Homo sapiens: one gene and its partners. Changing the gene in region 3 together with the main gene of any one other region gives a genetic interaction. Each region holds a gene or a part of one and is shown on either strand. Other genes may lie near its edges.

What was found. Genes that interact genetically often act in the same process or in processes that back each other up.
Region 1: changes in TRPC6 (region 3) and ALG10B together harm fitness less than expected from each alone (positive genetic interaction), as found in Homo sapiens cells (one large-scale study listed by BioGRID).
Region 2: changes in TRPC6 (region 3) and FUT8 together harm fitness less than expected from each alone (positive genetic interaction), as found in Homo sapiens cells (one large-scale study listed by BioGRID).
Region 4: changes in TRPC6 (region 3) and SPINK9 together harm fitness less than expected from each alone (positive genetic interaction), as found in Homo sapiens cells (one large-scale study listed by BioGRID).

The regions. Positions count from the first base shown.
Region 1 is NC_000012.12:38,323,274-38,326,773, forward strand, and holds part of ALG10B (dol-P-Glc:Glc(2)Man(9)GlcNAc(2)-PP-Dol alpha-1,2-glucosyltransferase), read left to right. Parts: 3' UTR 1-639; coding exon of another isoform or gene 640-651; 3' UTR 652-3,500. UniProt on the Homo sapiens protein: Dol-P-Glc:Glc(2)Man(9)GlcNAc(2)-PP-Dol alpha-1,2-glucosyltransferase that operates in the biosynthetic pathway of dolichol-linked oligosaccharides, the glycan precursors employed in protein asparagine (N)-glycosylation.
Region 2 is NC_000014.9:65,716,730-65,720,229, forward strand, and holds part of FUT8 (alpha-(1,6)-fucosyltransferase), read left to right. Parts: intron 1-3,500. UniProt on the Homo sapiens protein: Catalyzes the addition of fucose in alpha 1-6 linkage to the first GlcNAc residue, next to the peptide chains in N-glycans.
Region 3 is NC_000011.10:101,507,508-101,511,007, forward strand, and holds part of TRPC6 (short transient receptor potential channel 6), read right to left. Parts: intron 3,376-3,500; exon of another isoform or gene 3,183-3,375; coding exon of another isoform or gene 3,178-3,182; intron 1-3,177. UniProt on the Homo sapiens protein: Forms a receptor-activated non-selective calcium permeant cation channel. Probably is operated by a phosphatidylinositol second messenger system activated by receptor tyrosine kinases or G-protein coupled receptors.
Region 4 is NC_000005.10:148,334,361-148,338,358, forward strand, and holds the start of SPINK9 (serine protease inhibitor Kazal-type 9 precursor), read left to right. Parts: upstream 1-1,198; 5' UTR 1,199-1,253; coding exon 1,254-1,308; intron 1,309-2,061; coding exon 2,062-2,093; intron 2,094-3,998. UniProt on the Homo sapiens protein: Serine protease inhibitor which specifically inhibits KLK5. May contribute to the regulation of the desquamation process in skin by inhibiting KLK5.

The DNA.
Region 1 (3,500 bases), on a different chromosome or scaffold from region 3:
AAAAAGTCAGAATTGAAAGAAAGTTGAGAAATCCTTTGGTCTGACTTTGTAGATTAGGGAACAACTGCTGGGGTAGGATTATTTTGTGTTACTTTTTGAATTTTGTGTTTATTATTTTGAGTGTATTTTTTGGGTTGTCATTCCATTACAGGAAAGTATTATTTGGGCATGTTAACTTTGACATGTAAACTTAGAATTGTGAATAGAACTCATCTTTTAACATAATTTTATGTTTCTAAACTTTAAAAGTAGCTATAAGTGAACAAATTACTTTCCCCTCAATGTCAAATTTTGCTTCTCTGAGTTTTAAGTGATGAGTCTACATTTACAAATATAAAATTGTGTGCAGGTGAAAATTACAAGTATAATTTGAGTAATAAATGCAGGCCATTTTTTGGTTGTACTCTAGTACTCAGAAAATAGATCGGCATTAGTTATAACAGTGATTGTAGAAAAACGTGTTTTACCCAGACTTCTTAAAAATTAGATGAGAGAGGACACTCAAAGAAATTATACTTTTGTCATTAATTTACTATAGTGGAGAACTAAATCTGGGAAGTCAAAATTGAAAAAAGAATGTGTAATTTAGGGAAAGTAACTTTTTGTCTGATAATATTAATGCAAGGATTTTGTATTTAGGAATACTTCTGAGAGGAGAAGCTTCCACTCTGATCTAGTCTGGCAAAATTGAGGAAAATATTCTACCCTGTAATTAAAGAAGACTGCTCTTTGGAGGGATCACTGTTCTATATCTTTTTTTGTTTGTTTTTGTCTTTGAGGAGAAGTCTCGCTCTTGTCCCCCAGGCTGGAATGCAATGGCGCGATCTTGGCTCACTGAAACCTCCACCTCCTGGGTTCAAGCAGTTCTCCTGCCTCAGCCTCCCGAGTAGCTGAGATTATAGGCGCCCACCACCAAGCCTGGCTAATTTTTTCTATTTTTAGTAGAGCCGGGGTTTCACCGTGTTAGCCAGGCTGGTCTCGAACTCCTGACCTCAGGTAATCCACCTGCCTCGCCTCCCAAAGTGCTGGGATTACAGGCGTGAGCCACTGTGCCCAGCTCTTCTAGTTCATTTTTAAGTGTTGAGTCCCTGCTGTTTAAGAGATGTTTTGGTGAAAATCTACATTCAGAGAGAAACAGGTTAATCTTCCACATTTTTTATAAAATACATAAAATATAGTACTTGGCATTTTAAGAAAAGAATGCCATGTATTAAAAGGTGCTATTTTCAACTATTTATTATTTTAAAACAGGAATGCTTATCAATACTTTCGAATTTAAGATAAATGTCTTCGTTAAATTTTCTAGGCAGTTCAAAGATGGCCATTTGCTGGTGAATTTTCCAAAATAGATAACAGATAAAATGATTATGTAAGAACTTGGCACAACAGATCATTTTGCCTTTAGTCGTTCAAGAAATGATACTAAACTCAAAGTCATTCACTTGAAACAACTGAGAAGACCATTCTTAGGTGTTTAGATCCTTGCTTTTAGAAACATTCTTAGTTATATTTGTGTTTTCAAAAGTTATTGAGTAGATAGATATTTTTTCATGAATTTTTAAACATTAGACTTAGCTGAATTGATTAAAATTAGGTGATTATGAAAAAAATATTGCCCTGCTCGAGGGCATCTGGAGCCCTACAGTTACCATTACTAAAGTCTGTGAGTATGTCTATTTTGAAAAGTGTCATAAAAATATCTAGTCCATAAATCATTATAGGTTCAGTAATACATCATTTTGAACTGATTCTATCTTCTGTGAAATTCTAGAGATATGTTATCTTTAGGTAGCATGAGTAAGATTCAGGTATGCTGTGAATTTTGTTAACGTTTATGTTTTCCATTAATGGATAGTCAGGAATCTTTTGAACTGCGTCTATGTATTTAAATGATTTGGAAAGATAGCATCTCTCAGTTTAAACTTAGCATCTCATTTTGGCAAGATAAATTATTTTAGCTGTCTGGCCTTTTCTTTGTCTTCTTAGAGTTATTTCTGAAATGTGCATAGCCAGTCATAAAATAACTTGTGTAAATAGCCTAATGTAATTTATTTCTAATAAATACGTAGCTTAATGAAATGTATTTCTAGTTTGAACTTAATTGCCACTTGGCTTGATATTATTTTCCTTAGAATTGTTGGAAGAGAGGAGAGAGGAAGGGATCTACCATTTTTATTTATACCACCTAAATAGTGGACTGTTATTTTGGACTCACTTTTAAATAAAATATTTATTCACATGAAGAAATAAATTTTGTGTTTATTAGGTTAGCAAGCGTTTATTATCTTTGAAGTAATTGGAATTTCATTAAAAAGTGAAGCAAGTAAGAATTGTGATATAAATTTGAAAATTTTTAAATGGAAATTGAAATATGACTTAGGAACTGTGGGCTTGTAGAAAAAAACATTTAACATGGGAGTTAAGATTTTTATATTTGGTTGTGGCTCTGGGATCAATAAGGCAAGTGGTTTAGTCTTTAGTCCTCATTTCAAATGAGAATAGTATTTGTCCTAACTCTAGTCAGTGTCTGATTGGTATGTGTATAACCTTATTTTAAAAAGGATTCATTCCTGCCATATACTCATAATATTTATAAGTATGTCATATGATAAATATTGAGTAAATATATACTGAATGAAGTTTTTAGTATAGAGTGAAGTGAATAGAAAAAACATCCTACATAACCGTGGCTAATTTTAGGAAGTAAATCATGTTTCATAATAAGAGTCATCCTAAACATTTTTCTGTGTAATTTTCTGACCCAGTGTTAACAATTTTTATTTGCCTTAGTGCAAGCTTGTTCAACCCACAGGCCACATGCAGCCCAGGATGGCTTTGAATGCGGCCCCAACACAAATTTTGTAAGCTTTCTTAAAACATGATGAGATATTTTGTGATTTTATTTTATTTTATTTTATTTATTATTTTATTTTATTTTATTTTATTTTTTAGCTCATCAGCTATCATTAGTGTTCGTGTATTTTATGTGTGGCCCAAGATGGTTCTTCCAGTGTGGCCCAGGGAAGCCAAAAGATTGGAGACCCCTGCTAGCATTTAATGCTTATACATGTATTTACTTGTAAACATGTTGTTTCTTTGATAGGATATGATTTCAACATAATTACTGTTTATTTAAAATAAGAAAAACAAATAACTTTCAACCATTAAAAGGTTATAACACTTTAAAGGAAAGTTTCTTATTAAAGAAACTTTATACCCTATTAAGGGTATAATTTCAAAATAATTGCTTTTTATTTAAAATAAGAAAATATTCTTATTTCTATTTAAAATAAGAAAAATCAGTAACCTTCAACGAATAACAGGTTAAAGAATTTAAAGGTAAAAGACATTTCAACTAATTACAAATACTTTGTTTTTTTTAGTTGGGCTACATTTTACCACTCTAGGAATAGCTGTTAATTATTTTTTATATAGGGCATTTTTATGTATTTAATGTTGACAACTGACGTTTCCAATATACAAAAACTTGTGTAACTGAG
Region 2 (3,500 bases), on a different chromosome or scaffold from region 3:
CGATGGTCGCTGTCTCTTTGGAGCTGTTGGGTACACCTCCCAGATGGGGCAGCCAGGCAGAGGCACTCCTCACTTCCCAGACGGGGCGGCCGGGCAGAGGCGCTCCTCACTTCCCAGACGGGGCGGCCGGGCAGAGGCGCTCCTCACCTCCCAGACGGGGCGGCCGGGCAGAGGCGCTCCCCACTTCCCAGATGGGGCGGCCGGGCAGAGGCACTCCCCACTTCCCAGACGGGGCGGCCGGGCAGAGGTGCTCCACACTTCCCAGACGGGGTGGCCGGGCAGAGGCGCTCCACACTTCCCAGACGGGGTGGCCGGGCAGAGGTGCTCCCCACTTCCCAGATGGGGCGGCCGGGCAGAGGCGTTCCCCACTTCCCAGACGACGGGCAGCCGGGCAGAGGCGCTCCTCATTTCCCAGATGGGGCGGCCGGGCAGAGGCGCTTCTCACCTCCCAGACGGGGCGGCCGGGCAGAGGCGCTCCTCACCTCCCAGACGGGGCGGCCGGGCAGAGGCGCTCCTCACCTCCCAGACGGGGCGGCCGGGCAGAGGCGCTCCTCACTTCCCAGACGATGGGCGGCCGGGCAGAGGCACTCCTCACCTCCCAGACAGGGCAGCCGGGCAGAGACGCTCCTCACTTCCCAGACGGGGCGGCCAGGCAGAGACTCTCCTCACCTCCCAGATGGGGCAGCTGGGCAGAGGTGGCTCCTCACATCCCAGACAGGGCAGCTGGGCAGAGGCGCTCCTCACTTCCTAGACGGGGCGGCCGGGCAGAGGCGCTCCTCACCTCCCAGACGAAGGGCGGCCGGGCAGAGGCGCTCCTCACATCCCAGACGATGGGCGGCCGGGCAGAGACGCTCCTCACCTCCCAGACGGGGCGGCCGGGCAGAGGCGCTCCCCACTTCCCAGACGGGGCAGCCGGGCAGAGGCGCTCCCCATTTCCCAGACGGGGCGGCTGGGCAGAGATGCTCCTCACTTCCCAGACGGGGCAGCTGCCAGGCAGAGGCGCTCCTCACCTCTCAGACGGGGCGGCCTGGCAGAGGCACTCCTCAGTTCCCAGACGGGGCGGCCAGGCAGAGGCGCTCCTCACCTCCTTCTTTGTCCCTTTTTATAGTTTTTTTTTCTTGAAATCTATTTTGTCTATTACAGGTATAGCTACTCCTGCTCTTTTTTGGTTTTCATTGGCATGAAATATCTTTTTCCATCCCTTTATTTTTAGTCTGTGTGTCTTTATAGGTGAAGTATGTTTCTTGTAGGTAACAGATCATTGAATTTTGTGTTTCTTAGCTATTCAGCCACTCTATGTCTTTTGATTGGAGAATTCAGTTTGTTTACATTTAGTGTTATTAATAATAAGTAAGATCTTACTCCTGCCATTTTGTTATTTGTTTTCTGGTTATTTTGTGGTCTTCTCTTCCTTCTTTCCTTCCTTTCTATTTTCCTTTTAGTGAAGGTGATTTTCTCTGGTGGTTTGTTTTAATTTCTTGCTTTTTATTTTTTGTGTATTCATTGTATGTTTTTTGATTTGAGATTATCATGAGGCTTGCAAATAACTTATAGCTCGTTATTTTAAACTGATGACAATTTGGCACCGATTGCATAAACAAACATGCAATCAAAAAGAAGTCTAATAAATACTCTGTACTTTGTCCCCCCAACTTTTTAACTTTCTGTTATTTCTATTTATATCTTATGGTACCAAGTATGTCTTGAAAAGTTGTAGTTATTTTTGATCGGTTCATCTTTTAGTCTTTTACTTAAGATATCAATAGGTTACATACCACAATTACAGTGTTATAAAATTATGTGGTTTTTTGTATGCTTAGTATGACCAGTGAGGTACCTTCAGATCATTTTTTAATTGCCCATTAACACCTTTTTTCCTTCAAATTGAAGGATTCCCCTTAGCATTTCTTGTAGAACAGGTCTGATGTTGATGAAATCTCTCAGCTTTTGTTTGTCTGGGAAAGTCTTTATTTCTTCTTTAAGCTTGAAGGATGTTTTCACTGGATATACTATTCTAGGGTAAAAGTTTTTTTTCCCTCAGTAGTTTATGTCATACCACTCTCTTTTGGCCTGTAATGTTTCCACTGAAAAGTCTGCTGTCAGACATATTGGAGCTCCATGGTATGTTATTTATTTTTTCTTTTGCTGCTTTTAGGATCCTTTCTTTATCCTTGACCTTTGGAAGTTTGGTTATTAAATGCCTTGAATGGTAGTCTTCTTTGGGTTAAATCTGGTTGATGTATAACTTTCTTGTACTTGAATATTGATATCTTTGTCTAGAATTCGGATGTTCTCTGTTTCATCCCTTTGAATAAACGTTCTGTTCCTATCTCTCTCTGCCTCCTTCTTAAGGCCAATAACTGTTAGATTTGCCCTTTTGAAACTATTATTTAGATCTTATAGGCATGCTTCATTGTTTTTCATTCTTTTTTCTTTTGTCTCTGTTGACAGTGTATTTTCAAATAGCCTGTCTTTAAGCTTACCAATTCTTTCTTCTGCTTGATGACTTCTATTAAGAGACTCAGTATGTCAGCTGCATTTTTCAACCCCAGAATTTCTGCTTGATTCCTTTTAATTGTTTCAACCTCTTTGTTAACTTTATCTGATAGGATTCTGAATTCCTTCTTTGTGTTATCTTGAACTTCTTTGCATTTCCTCAAAATAGCTCTTTTGAATTCCCTCTCTGAAAGGTCACATATCTATGTTTCTTCAGGATTTGGTCCCTGGTGCCTTATTTAGTTTGTTTTTCAAGGCCATGTTTTCCTGGATGGTCTTGATGCTTGTGGGTGTTCATTGGTGTCTGGGCATTGAAGGTATTTATCGTAGTCTTCACAATCTGAACTCTTTTGTACCTGTCTTAGAAAGGCTTTCCAGATATTTGAAGGGAGTTGGCTGTTGTGATCCAGTTTTGGTCATTGCAGCCATATCTACATTAGGGGGCACCCCAAGCCCGATAATGCTGTGGTTCTTACAGACTTGCAGAGGTACTACCTTTGTGGTCTTAGATAAGGTCTAGAAGAATTCTCTGGATTACCAAGCAGAGACTCTTGTTCTCTTCCCTTACTTTGTCCCAAACAAACGAGTCTCTGATTCTGTGCTCCAAGCCTCTTGTAGTTGGGGGAGTGGTGACACAAGCACTTTTGTGGCTACCACCACTGGAACTACACTAGACCAGACCTGAAACCAGCATAGCACTGGATCTCACCCAAGGCCCAGTGTAACCCCTACCTGGCTACCTCCTGTGTTGGCTCAAAGTTCTAGGGCTCTATAATGAGCAGGTGGCAAAGCCAGTCAGGCTTTTATCCATCCCTTCAGGACAGCAAGCAAGTTCCCCTGGGCCCCAGGCAGGTCCAGAGATGCCATCTGGGAGCCAGCATCTGGAGTTGGAAACCTTAGAACCCTATCTGGTCCTCTATTCTCCTGCAGCTGAGCTGGCATCCAAACCATAAGGCAAAGTGCTTCCCACTTTTCACTCCTCTTTTCATAGGCAAAAGAGTCTC
Region 3 (3,500 bases):
TTCTAGTACAGCACATCTTCCAACAGCTGTCTAATAAAGCATGCATAGGTGAATTTTTAAAGAACGTGTACATCTAAAACTGACTTTGTCCTACCTCTAAACTTAACTGATAGTTTGGCTGGGTAGAGAATTCAAGGTTGAGGATAATTTTGGAGGCCTTGCTCTAATAAATTATAGTTTTGTGGCTACTATTGAGAAGCATGATGCAATTTTGATTCTGGATATTGTCTTTGTCTCTGGTGTCCTAAAATTACATGGTTGTTTATTGAAGGGAGTCTCTTCTCCACAGTGCTGCCCATTTAATCTGGAATAAAAAGTGTCCTTTTCTTAGAAATAGTCTTGCCCTATTTATCTGATCATTTTGTTTTCTGCTTTCAATGTACCATTTCTGGAACTCCTTCTTTTTGATGTTGGACATCCTGTAATTGTCCTTTAATTTTCTTATCTTTTCTATTTCCAATTATTTATGTTCAATATTATTTATTATATTCTGGGAAATTTCTTCAACTTTAGATTATATCTATGAAAATTGCTATTATATTTTTAATTTTCAAAAACACCCTTTATTTTCAAATGTTACTTTTTATAAGACTTTTCTGCTTTTAAAGGCACAAACATTTTTTCTTCTCTCTCTGGGGATGTTAAAGATTGCACACATCACAATTTAGAGAACTTACTCCTGAGTTGCTTTTTTATGTTTGTTTGCTTTGGTCTCTGTATTTCATAGTAGAATTTTTCCTCGTATAGCTAGTGATTCTTAGTAGATATTCTTTGCTTCTTTTTAAAGAAATATTCCTTATAATGTCTTTTCTAAGAGAGTATAATTTCCCCTTATAAAAACTAGAGTGAGCCTAATGTTGGTTTTGGCAAAAGGTGATGTCTGAGTTACGGTGAGTTTCTAGAAGAATCACATTATTTCTGAGTTAACAAGATGGATGAGGTAGAAGAGACAGGAGATCATCAAGGTTTGTTACATGAGGAAACATCATCTTCCTACTGAAATTCTTAACCCTCTTCCCTTCTCTCTGTCACTTTTCTGGCTTCTACTAACCTCTTTAGGCTTTCACTTCCTCTCTCTTATCTTCTGTATTTATTGCTTTGCGTAGTTTCTATTGTAGACAAGAGGAAGTTCAAAGATTAGGGGGAGAGACAGTATCTTCCAAACATGAAGAATGCTTTGAAAAAGAAAAACTGTAAATTTAAGGGAGAAACAAAATAGGATCAGGGATCTATAAAAGTAAGATGAAAGTACTGGGAGTGAGAACTTGCAAGATAAGTTCTCATGTAACTAAAAAAATGACACAAAACTGACACAAAATAGTAACATATCAAAACATCAAGAACAAGCTCCATTTTTTTTCATCCATTAAAATGGGAGAAATAATTATTCTGACCTATCTCAAAGGACTACTTTCAGAGGTAATTGAAATTATGAATGTGGAAAGCATTTTAGGTTGGATTTAAATTTTTTTACAGCCACATCCATAATAATAAGCACATATATAGCACTTATAAAAATAAGAAGGACACTTGGACTTCATCATTTTTCAGCTGTTATGCAATAAGAAGACCCATGAAAAAAAGGCAAGGACTGAGATGGTAATTGATGTAAGTTGTTTTGTCTTTTTCTTTTTTTTTTGAGACAGGATCTCGTTCTGTTGCCTTACTATAGCCGCAACCTCCCAGACTCAATCAATCCTCCTTCCTCAGCCTCCTGTGTAGCTGGGACTAAAGGCACATGCTACCTCACCCAGTTAATTTTTGTATTTTTTTTATAGATGGGGTCTCGCCATATTGCCCAGGCTGGTATCAAACTCGTGGGCTCAAGTATCCTCCCACCTCAGCCTCCCAACATACTGGGATTACAGGTATGAGCCACCACACCTGCCCTTTGTTTGTCTTTTTAAAGAAAGAAAAATAAGAATTAGCAACTTTACTTGTATCTCAATTTTTAATCTGGTTTACAAAATTTTATTTTTTCATCCAATACTAAGTTTACATTGAGCTAAATAGAATGTCTGAGTTGTGACATCTTTTATTCTAAGATTTTAAAATAACAATCTATGACTTTCCTGCCCATTTATTTGAAAAATGACAAGTTCTATCTTGGCAAGCCACTAATCATAATGATGTATCTTATTTCCTTCTAAATTACTGTGGCTTTTGTACCTATAACTTCTTGAAGGAACAGCAAAGATATTTCCGTAGAATTTTTTTTTTCAGTTTTAAAGCATCTTCTGTCTTAGTTGTTGTGACCACACATATTAATCATATGCAATGATATAATTTTTAGATACATTTTTATAAAAAGGCCTAGATTATCATAATCTGTTTAGCACTCTGTCAACTATATATGAGTCTGTGACAGAATTACAACTTGGTCATTCTGTATCTGAAAAGTCAGAATGTATCTGATACATTTTTGTTTGTTTTTGATTACTTTAGGAATATTACAACAGCAGGCACAATGAATTTTTATTGTTTTAGGCATATTACAAATGCAGGCCCAATGGATTCAGCACCCCTTGCATGAGTAGTAAGACACAGTAAAAGCTGCTTGTATGTTGTTGACAGAACAAAACGCATGCTTTGCTGCTCTCCTTATCTTTCTTAACTGCAGCCTGGAGAAGCAATAAAAGATTCTACTTGTATTTTTATGTCACAAGTGGTGTTGCTTACTCCCTGCCTCTCCTATGCAAAAGCAAAATGTGTAAAACAACTTTTTAAGTAACAGATATTTGAAAGCAATTCAGGAAAGATACTAGATGTTACTAGATTATATTACAAACCTCTCTGCAAATGGTTTTTATAAAACTATGTTGTAGAATTTTACATTAATAGCAAATGAAACCTAGCAAAATCATCTGTTAAAAAGAGGAACAACTCAGCCCATAGCTCCATAGCACTACTTCAACAAAAGACATTTTCATTTCAGCTAAAGGGCACACTTTTCAAATTCGGCTCTTCTATTTATGAAAATATTTATTAAGAAATTTTCTTCACCCATTTAGCCACATTTAGCATGGTTAAAAGATTAGTAACCTACATTTTCATGTCTGTATTTTTACAAGGTGTTTATCACAACATATAAATACTGGTTCTAAGAAAGAGTAATTAGCCACCACCCCTATGGCACTCAAATGTAGATTAGGTCATGAAAACCATGTTTTTACATACCTCATTTTCCTGGTCCTTTTAGTATTTGTTGCCCCAGATAGTGAGAGATGGAATAATCCATCTCTATTGAAAATGCCAGCAATGCAAATTAGCTTCTGAGTAGAGTGGATTGCATGCTAGAGTCCACAGCATGTGTAGTAATTCTCTCTACTTCCTGTTCAACTATGATACACTTTTATAACATGGAACTGCTTTTATACAAACTAAGCTCCATATTAAGTTCTTAGCTTAACTTTGACTTTGTGCTTTAAAAATCCTTACAAATATTTTAAAGCGCAATTCTATTACAGCAGAAGTTCTAAAATTGTAAATGGAATGTAACT
Region 4 (3,998 bases), on a different chromosome or scaffold from region 3:
CAAGGCCTAGTCAAGAAAAGGGTCCAGAGGACCTTAAATAAGTTTGATCAAGAAGATAAGAGTCTTTCGGTTGGGCACAGAGGTTCATGCCTGTAATTGCAGCACTTTGGGAGGCCAAGGCAGGCAGATCACTTGAGGTCAGGAGTTCAAGACCAGCCTGGCCAATATGGTGAAATCCGGTCTGTACTAAAAATGCAAAAATTAGCCAGGTGTGGTGGCATGCTCCTGTAATCCCAGCTACTTGGGAGGCTGAGTCAGGAAAATCCCTTGAACACAGAAGGCAGAGGTTGCAGTGAGCTGAGATCACGCCACTGCACTCCAGCCTAGGTGATAAAGCAAGACTCTGTCTCCAAAAAAAAAAAGAAGACGGTCTTTCTCAAACTACATGAGAGCAGTCAGTTTTTCATGGACTGTGGCATATTCAAGATAAAATACAGTCTCTAAGACAGAGTAAATGCTCATTAATATTTATGAGATGATCAAATGAAGATTAAAAAAAGCCAAGGCTTATAGCGGATAAATAGCTTGTACAAGGTCACATGGAGAGTGGTGTAGCTGGCAATTAGTTCAGGTGTGCAAGATTCCCAAAGTTTCAGCTCTCAGAGATAGTATGATGATCTTGTCCCCAGATCATACCAGAATAAGTTTCAGCTATCTCTTTACTTTAGAAGGGAAATAAATGTGAAATTCAGCCTTAGATACTAATACTTCCATTAGTAGTATAAAGTGTCCTCCAATTCTACCTACAACACCTGCAAGAGCTTCTTCCAGAGTTTTCTCATAGTCACTCTATCTGAAACCTAGCCCATTCCAAAATCAGCACTTTTGTAGCCTTTATTAAAGAATTCAAATGACTCATGGTTTAATTAAGGAACAATTAAAACTTATTAAACCATGGCCAAAAGATTGCTGGCTTGTCTATTGCAAGTTATTGTATGAAATGAAAAATGCCACTGATTATGTACGTAATTGTAGTTCAAAGCAAAGCTACCATCTCATTCTTCATCCATCAGCCTGGGTTTGGGGACTAGCTATTAAAATGGCATGTGCAATTACCTGTCTTTCACAAGAAAAGAATCCCCATGGCTCGCAGACATTTCTGACCTCTTTCTGGAGTTGTACTACTTAGAAATTGCTATTTCACAATTGAGGCAGGAATTCTTGAAAATATATAAGGCAGGATCAAAGTGAGCTGGACGGACACCAGGTCACTTCTTTTCCCTACATCTGACTGCCTTGGCCACTTCAGTACTATGAGAGCAACAGCCATAGTCCTACTCTTGGCTCTGACACTTGCAACCATGTTCAGTGAGTATCTCTGATAATACTGCCCCTGCCCTTGTACTAATAGCTCATGCAGTCTTCTGCCTATGTAATTCTGGGATATATGTAATTCATCACATAAATAATAAGGGAAACTTTTTAAAATGAATCTTTTGCCTCAACCAACGAATTGCTAAATCACATCACCTCAGGGGTAGAGTGGATGTTAACAGTCATCTAAAGTCAAATGCTTATTCATGAGAATACTTTGTATAATTTTTTAGGGAGAGGATCATCCAGACTCTGCTTTGACTTGATGTCACCATTTACAGGGAACTCATTTATTCATAAAACATTACAATCAATTGTTTGGCACCATGGGCTATTCTTCTATTATTGAGTTAAAATTGGCCTCCCTAGAATTTTCAACCACTGTTCCAACATCTGTCATCTACACCTGTCCACAATAGCACATCTCCCTAAATATGACTCACTTATTTCTTCTGTCTCTACTGAGCTCTGGTTATGAAGTAAAAAAGATTAAGACAAAATTCTCATTCATCGTGGCATCTTTTCCATTTCTTTGACTAGATTCCACTCCCACTCCAAAAAAGAAAAAAAATTTAAAGATACGTGTGAAGAGCTTCAACCTTTGATACAATGCTGATACACAGTTGTGAAGAGAGACTTACATTTTTATGACAGGCTGAAAGCTAAAGCATAAATCAAAGATTCTTTTTCTAGTAAGATTAGGTTCTTCCAGAGTTTAATATTGCCTTGTCTTTGTTTTTCTTCCAGGTATAGAATGTGCCAAACAGACGAAACAGATGGTCAGTACACCCATCCTACTTTTATGTAATTTTAAAGTCAATATCAGTAAGGAAATATTTGATACTACACAGTAATTAAATTTCTATATGTTTGAATATTTACTTTATGTGTATGAAAACTGGTTTTATTTCAAAAATTGTAGGCAGATCTTTCTAAAATGGAGAGAGTAGAACAAGGTGGTGAGACACTAGCAACAAATTTAGAAAGGCCTGGTCTTTAATTCCACGTTTTTGATCACGTGGCCATGGGCAACATACTTATAACATTATTCCAAGACTTGAAGCCATAGTATTTGAAAAGAGCTTAGCACAGTGCCTGGCATAGAGTGAAACTCAATAAGGGCAAGTCATGATTCTTATAATTTTTAAATGGGTCACACATATCTTTGTTCTCTGTCTTAGAAAATAAGGACTTTAATTTAGCCTTCCATTCATGACTCAGGTTACAGTAATGAGTATTGTTGAAAAAATCTAGGTGTGGTAGCAAAAATCTTATTTGGTACTCAATTTGAGTTCCACTCTAAACTCTGTTGCTTATTAACTGTGTGACACTGGGGCCTGGGAAATTTATTTTATGTCTTTGAGGCTTCTGTTTTACCTATTAAAGAAAATAATAGGGTTAAGGATATAAATTTTGGAGTCAGATGGGCCTGAGTTCAAGCCATCCTTCATGATTTAGTAGCTGTGAGAGGATGTAAAGGATTACTGAAAGTTACGAGCTTGGTAGTTTCCCATCACATTGTTGAGTATCACATAAACTCTGTCTCCCTGGGATTTGAGCAGGCAAGAAGAGGAAGTGAAATCACGCTGGCATATACTTATCATCAGGCACTGCTGTTTCTATTCTGCTGCACTAGCCTCTAAGGTCCTCCTGCCATTATGCCATGCATACCTATCTTTGCATCAGCTCCACTAACCTTAGCCCGATAACAGGAGGTGTATGGAAGCTGATGAATGAATGAATGAATTAATTAATGAAGCACATCTGGAGGGAAGGAAGAATTCAACTTTAAGTTTGAGTATATTCCAAGCTATTCAAGTAGAGATAGTCCACAATTAATAAAATATCATGCCTAGACCTCTCAGACAAAACAAGCTGGAGATGCAGTCTTTTGTATACAGCTGGAGTTTGTGTAGACCTGAAAGAGAAATCAAAAGATAAAAAATTGTGCCTATTATTCATTCAATATTTTCCATGCAATGTAGTGCTAAGCATTGTACACATATCTTTTCATTTACATATTTTTTACTTCCACCCTACAATGTGGTTATTATCTTTATTTTACAGATAAAAAAACTAAAGTTTAGAGAGGTAAAAAAATTTTTACAGGGTCACATAGAATTTGCATTCAGATGTGTTTGACTTTACTCTATATGCTCTTCTATATGCTCATAGATTTTTTAAAAAATATGAAAAACTTTTCTTGGGAATTGCCTACCTACTTCCACAGGCTTTGCTCTAGGAATTTAGAACACTGGTTCCCAACTACAATATTAAGATATATTCATCTATGTGCTGGTGAAGTATATAACAAGTAAATTGTTACCAATAATTAGTAGTAAAAATCTGTCAGTAATGTACTAGTCATTAAAATGATAGTAGTTATCCCTACATTTCACACTTGCATTCATATTGAGCTTTTTCAGTGAAAGACAGAAATAGTAGGATAATTCCTACAGAAAATATATCACACTTCTGAGTACTCCCATGAGAATGGTTGCATTTGAGAATATGCCATGTATTTTAAGAACTGATACATCAACCAGTATTGTGAGAAAAAAATCTATTTTTACATTAAGGTATGATTTGGGAACCAACTATGGTAAAGATGTTTATCAGTCATGATTTTATATCTGACATAAAACATCTTTACATTTGAAATGTCTTGAAGGGGGTAGATGAGA